Regions from separate parts of the Homo sapiens genome. Here region 1 is reported to be linked to region 2. The links are microRNA targets in miRTarBase. Many come from high-throughput screens and were not tested one by one. Region 2 holds a microRNA gene; the other region holds the end of a gene's coding sequence.
What was found. The annotated mature microRNA hsa-miR-6866-3p reads GAUCCCUUUAUCUGUCCUCUAG and lies in region 2 at 2,330-2,351, opposite strand. An mRNA with a match to its seed (bases 2 to 7 or 8) in the 3' UTR can be bound and repressed. Matches are read on the target gene's strand: a 7mer-m8 pairs with bases 2 to 8, a 7mer-A1 pairs with bases 2 to 7 and ends in A, and an 8mer does both.

Region 1: the mRNA of SEL1L3 is a reported target of hsa-miR-6866-3p. Seed matches in the 3' UTR shown: 7mer-A1 at 1,247-1,253.

What each region holds. Positions count from the first base shown.
Region 1 is chr4:25,745,448-25,748,857 of GRCh38, reverse strand. It overlaps SEL1L3 (SEL1L family member 3), which reads left to right. Exons shown (of 24, transcript NM_015187.5): 24 at 294-1,425. The coding sequence ends at 433. Among named protein-coding and RNA genes, the nearest start is that of SLC34A2, 91 kb to the right of the region's middle.
Region 2 is chr17:40,160,921-40,164,330 of GRCh38, reverse strand. MIR6866 (microRNA 6866) reads right to left here and starts at 2,398; the gene lies at 2,330-2,398. It overlaps CASC3 (CASC3 exon junction complex subunit), which reads right to left. Exons shown (of 14, transcript NM_007359.5): 4 at 2,420-2,578; 5 at 2,178-2,329; 6 at 1,430-1,606; 7 at 165-850.

The DNA of each region.
Region 1 (3,410 bases), not on the chromosome of region 2:
AAGCCAGAAGTTTGGGGACCCATTCTTAAACTTCCTAGAATGTCCCCTTAGGAATGAGCATCGGCACTTGGAGGTGAAACTCTTGAAGGGTTTTTATTTAGAAATCAGATTGTCAGCATGTGGTGGCATCTTCTTAAACTTAGATAACGGGTCCAGAGTTGCCTGGCTAGTTAGTGTCAGGTTCATTAGACTAGATGCATCTCTCCTGGCTTGCCAGAGTCTCTAGGTGTGGTTGTACATTCTGAATGCACTGTTTTGAGTATTCAGCACCTGTTGTGCATGTGTCTCTGCAGCAAGCGATCCCCCTCCAAGACCATCCCAGGCCTCCCCAGACACTGCCACGTCCACTGCAAGTCCAGCTGTGACTCCAGCTGCAGATGCCTCTGACCAAGACCAGCCCACAGTAACTAATAACCCGGAGCCACGTGGGTGAACTGTGCACTCCAGTTCTCTCCAGATGAGAGAGAATCTTTTCAACAGCTGGTATTGGGAAGCTGGGGCCAGGGCATGATCCTGATAAACACCTTAAATGTCTTGTCAACTGGATGCAAATTTTGCAATTGGTGTCATTTTTTTTAAAGTCAAATTACAAGGAAGTACCCAGATCAGGCAGTGGTAATACCAAAGGTCATCAAACACATACAAGGAACATCTTGATCATAGGGCATGTGGGGAAGTTTACTGGGCCATCACAGACTTTTGTTCTAGTGATTGTATGTATTAGGAGTCATAGCATGCCCTACGGCAGATCTGGATTCTTATACACTAAGATGTGTCTTAAGAATCACAGTGCGTGCTTCATCCCTTTATTGAAGAACAGAAAATTATGACTACTCTACAAGGTGGATAATATTTTGGTACCTGTGCTTGCCACAGCCCTGTTCCTCAAAGCTGAATTGATAGATTTCTCTTTGACTTCCAAGACCTAGCAGTTATAAGGCACCTTGAAATAAATTGTTTGTGCCTGGAAATGCAGGGAGGGCAATAGCTTTGTAAATTGGTTTACATTTTTCTCCTTGAATTTTTCTAGGGTCCTAGTGCTTCCGAATCATTTAATGGCATTGTCGGATATCTTTTACATTTCAATTGCAATCCATGAAATTACATTTAGAAGATTCTTAGTACTTAACTGTAGTCTTCTCCATGAATTACACGTTAGAATAGACTGGCAGCAACGGAATATGCAGCAAGTAAGCCTCTAGCTTATAGTTTCATCCCTACCCCTCATGCCTGCGTGAGTCTGTACAGGGATATGTGTGTGTGTGTGTGTGTGTGTGTGTTAGAGAGGAAGAGGAAGAGCAGAATGTCTGTATACTACATGCTGCTAAGGTAGTGAATAAATCAGTAATGCAATATTGTGGGTCCAAACTACTCTTTGCACTACTTTATTTACAGTAGTAAATAAAATTATTTTTATACAATTGACTACCAGAAAGTGGTTTTTTTTCCCCTTTTTTATAATTACTGTCACCATATAAAGTCTAAAGGTCCATATATTCTCCTTGAGGAGGGAAAAAAGAAAAGTCCTCCTGGTGAGAGGGCTTATTTTTCATAACCCATTAATATTTGTGGATAGGAAGGTGGCAGGAGGCTTCTCTCCAGGAATCCTGAGCTCAGGTCTGGCCTTAGAATGTTCGCACAGTATCAGACATTGTTTCAGGGCTTTGTGCTGCTCTGAGCCTGGGCTCTATGTTCATTCCAGGCTAAGCTTGTAGTTCATCCTCCTCCTTCTCCTATGAGTGTTGCTCTTGTTTTAGCAAATGTTGTCCCTCCTATTTGCAAAAAAGCCAGAGATTGAAGGCTGACAGTCCTGGATTCAAATTCTGGTCCTGTAACTGACAAGCTCAGTAATCTTAGGTGAGTGATTAACCTTCTCTAAGTCTCAGATTCCCATACTATAAAATGGGGCGATGAAAACTACCTCTTGGGATTTTTATGAGGCTTACACGAGATAATATATGTAAAGCCTACAGGATAGAGTCTTGTATTAGGTCATTCTTGCATTGCTATAACGAAATACTTGAGACAGGGTAATTTATAAAGAAAAGAGGTTTTATTGGCTCAGAGTCCTGTAGGCTGTACAGGAAACAAGGCGCTGACAGCTATTTGACTTCTGGGAAGGTCTCAGGAAACTTTCAATCATGGCAGAAGGCGAAGGAGAAGCAGACATGTCTTACGTGGCTAGAGCAGGAGCAAGAGAGACTGAGGCAGGTGCCACAGACTTCTATTTATTTTATTTTTGTTTCTCTCTATAGATAGAGATCTATATCTATCTATATATAGAAAGAATATATATATTTAAATATATACATTTGAATATATATATTTAAATATATATATATATATATATTTAGATAATATTGCTCTGTCGCCCAGGCTGGAGTGCAGTGGCACGATCTCGGCTCACTGCAACCTCCCCCTCCTAGGTTCTGGTGCCTCAGCCTCCGAGTAGCAGGGACTACAAGCATGTGCCACCATGCTTAGCTAATTTTTTGTATTTCTAGTAGAAACAGTGTTTTGCCATGTTGCCCAGGCTGGTCTTGAATTCCTGAGCTCGGGCAATCCGCCTGCCTCAGCCTCCCAAAGTGCTGGGATTATAGGCGTGAGTCACCGCGCCTGGCCTATTATATGCTTTTTTATTTTTATTTTTTATATTTTTTGCCACACACTTTTAAACAACCTGCTCTCATGGGAGCTCACTATCATGAGGACAGCATCAACAGGACGGTGCTAAACCATTCATGAGAAATCCATCCCCATTATCCAATCACCTCCTGCCAAGGCCCACCTCCAACATGGGGGATTACATTTCAACACTGAGATTTGAGCAAAGCAAATATCCAAACTATATCAGGTCCTAAATATGGTAGGTCATTATTTTTATAACATAAGAAAGAGCAGTCTGAGGGGCCAGAGAGTGACTCTGCTCTGCTGAGATCCTCTCTCCATGGCAAACACACCCATTTCCAATCTGTTGGGAACATGAGCTGCTGACTGCTCACAGCCACACGCCACACTGGGAATTGCCCTAAGCTGCTGGGATCTGCCCAAGGGCATACCCTTGCAAGAGCAGCCCGTGGCCAGTGGCTCCTTGATGTAGGCAGAGTTTCTCAATCTCAGCACTATGGACATTTGAGCTGGATGGTTCTTTGTTGTGGGGCAGGGTTGTCTTGTGTATTGTAGATGCTAAACAGCATCTCTGGCCTCTAATGAATGCTGCAGTGGGCACTCATCACCCCTGCTTCCCAGTGTGACAGCCAAACACCTCCTTGGGAGCAAAATCACACTCCCTTCACCTTGAGAATGACTGATGTAGGAAAACAAAGGTCCCTTGCCTCAATTTGGAACAGTGCTGAACGGCAGGGCATCCCAGCTCCAAAACTCTACGTTGGTTGCAACCTCACTGAATG
Region 2 (3,410 bases):
AATCGCGCCACTGCACTCCAGCCTGGGCAAAAGAGTGAGACTCTGTCTCAAAAAAAAAGAAGTAGACATTTGTCAGACACCACCTTCCTGAGACAGAAGTCCCATGCCCCTAAACCTGATGATGCAAAGGGGAAAAAGCTAGCCACCAATCCTATGATACCTACCTCGAAGTTCCCGTGGTTGCAGGAAAGAAGGCTGCCCCGGACTCCAATTCTGTTCTGCTATATTTAGTTGTGCCACATCTTGCTCAAGTCCACTTGTACTAGAATCCACCGGAGCTTCCCAGGTCCCAGTCTTAGTAGGTGGAGTTGGGGTGGTTTCTGGGACTGGAGGTGCTGGAATCAGTCCTTCAGGAGGAGGGGGCACCTCCTCTGCAAGCTTGACTGCATCTCCAACTTTGGTTCGAGTTCTTCTTGCCCGGGAATAGGATTTCTTCTCAATGGGCCTATCAGGGGGTGGTGGTGCAGCATCAGGAGCAGCAGCTGGTGGCTCTGAGGCTGCCTCTTCCTTCTCAGGACTGCCAAGCACTGGAGCATCTGCTTCTGGAGATGGATCCCTCACAGAAGTCTGCTCTAGGCGCCGTGACCGGTAACTAATCTCATGCTTAACAGTCTCACCAGACCGGCCACCATGCTGCCCACCAGCTTCCACAGGCCTAAAACCAGCACGACCTTCCTTGAAGCCCCCAGATCGAGAATAATTCCTGGGTGCAGACATACGGCCGGTACCTGCAGCATTCCTGTTAATAAATGTCCTTGGTGGTAGGGTGCCCCCAAGACCCTGGTGGCGATGAGACTTGTTTAGCCGCTCACCGTTCCAGTTTGGATCTCTTTGTGGAGGACTCCCATATCTACAAAAAATGGAATGAAGAAACTGTTAGGAAATTAACAAAAGGAGGCTACGCGCGGTGGCTCAGGCCTGTAATCCCAGCACTTTGGGAGATCGAGACGGGCAGATCACTTGAGGCCAGGAGTTCAAGACCAGCCTGGCCAACATAGCGAAACCTCATTTCTACTAAAAATACAAAAATTAGCCGATCGCGATAGTACGCGCCTGTAATCCTGGCTACTCAGGAGGCTGAAGCAGGAGAATCACTTCAACCCAAGAGGTGGAGGTTGCAGTGAGCCGAGAACATGCCATTGCACTCCAGCCTAGGCAACACAGCGAGACTCTGTCTTAAATAAATAAATAAAAAGAAAAGCAAAGAGAATTCTTTCTAAAAGATATCAAGAGTCTACACTCTATTTTTTTTTTCCTTTTTTTCTTTTTTTTTTTGGAGACAGGGTCTCACTATGTTCCCCAGGCTGGTCTTGAACTCCTGGCCTCAAGCAATCCTCCTGCCTCAGCCTCCCAAAGTGCCGGGATTCCAGGTGTAAGCCACCGTAAGCCACCATACCCAGCCTGGTCTTATGTTCTAAAATGTCCTCACCGGGGTTTCCGGATTCTTCGAGGTTTGATGTCATCAGGATTATGAGCTGAGCGAATGTCATAACCATAAAGAGCAATGAGCTCCTGTCGGGACTTTGGGGCCTGCTCATCTTCCCGGAACTTGTCATGCTCCCAGCGACCCTCATCCTTCCATAGCTTTCGCTGACGCCCCTTGGGTCTGGATAAAATGAAGGAAAAGTGTCTTGGGTCAGCAGAATTCTCCAAGTAGAGATGTTCTTGAACAAAATGGGTCAGGGAGGCAGGGGGACAATAGGAACTTTACGTAGTCTCCTCATCATCCCAAAGAGATTATAAAAAACAGGCCTCCCCAAAGCAAGCGTGAATCACAGAACCTCAGGGCCTGCTGGGCTCAAATATAACAGACACAGAAATGAGAAAAAGACTTCATTTCATGCCATTCAGTACCTTTGAAACATCTCCTTTCTCCTAAAAGGCAACCTATGCAAGTATTTCACTTCTCAGACGCCTTACACCTCAGACTAAGAAAAGCAAAAGTATAATAATTAAGAGAAGATGAGTTCTGGAAACAAACTGTCCTAGGTCTGTATCTTAGCTGCCTCACCAAGAGTTACCAAATATTCTAAGCCTACTTTCCTCATTTGTACGATAAGGATAATCATAATACTTATCTTAAAATGCTGTAATAAATGAAATACAGGCAAATCGAAGTACCTGGCCTACATGTGTAAAATACATGTTAGACAGCAGCAGCAGCAAGTGGCTTTTACCTGACTTCCTCCTCCTGAGTTTGCCCTCGAAGATCATGCTCAAAGAAGAGCCCTTTCCGAGGTATGTATGCTGGATTCTTCCGATCTTCATCATCATCCAAATGCTTAGGGCCCTTTTTACCCACTTTGTTCTCCACAGGCTCTGTGCTCTCCTAGAGGACAGATAAAGGGATCCTTACTCTTCCAAGCCTCAAGAATCTCTATTCCAGCCTCTAAAATGGAGGACTGTGGAATGTACTAACCTGTCCGTCCCCACTTTGCCTCTCTCCAGTCACAGTGCTTTTGGTGTCAGGCTTTTCTTCTCCCTTCTCTTCTTTTGTTGAAGAATTAACAGCATCATTAGCTTCTGATTTCAGCTCCACTTTGGAGTTTTCCTCTTCACTGTATTCACCTTCTTCACCCTGAAAAAAGTTTCCCTGTCAGCGATGCATATAAGATCTGAACGGTGCATTTTAATTCCCACCCCTGCCCCCAACCCCAAAACAAAGTCTCTGTCACCCAGGCTGGAATACAGTGGCACAATCTCAGCTCACTGTAACCTCTGCCTCCAGGGGTCAAGCAATTCTCCTGCCTCAGCCTCCTAAATAGCTGGGATTATAGGCGCCCACTACCGCGCCTGGCTAATTTTTGTATGTTTAGTAGAGACCAGGTTTCACCATGTTGGCCAGGCTGGTCTTGAACTCCTGATTTCGTGATCTGCCTGCCTTGGCCGCCCAAAGTGCTGGGTTTATAGGCGTGAGCCACCGTGCCTGGCTGCATTTCAATTTTCTACTCTTTAGGAATACATTTATCAATAAATTTTTAGTACAACATAGAACTGAAAAGCAAACAAATCAATATTCTTACCCATATTTCTAGAAAATAAAGATCCTATTTTGGCCTGGCACAGTGGCTCACGCCTGTAATCACATTTTGGGAGGCCAATGCAGGCAGATCACCTGCGGTCAGGAGTGTGAGACCAACCTGGCCAGCATGGCAAAACCCCATCTCTACTAGAAATATAAGAATTAGCCGCACTTGGTGGTAGGCACCTGTAATCCCAGCTGCTCGGGAGGCTGAGGCAGGAAAATCGTTTGAACCAGGGAGGCAGAGCTTGCAGTGAGCAGAGACTGCGCCACTGCACTTCAGCCTGGGCGACAGAGCAAGGCTCTGTCGCAAAAAATAGTAATAATAAAAAAAAGACACTATTTTAAAAATATCACATTAAAAAAAATACACACATACATACATATA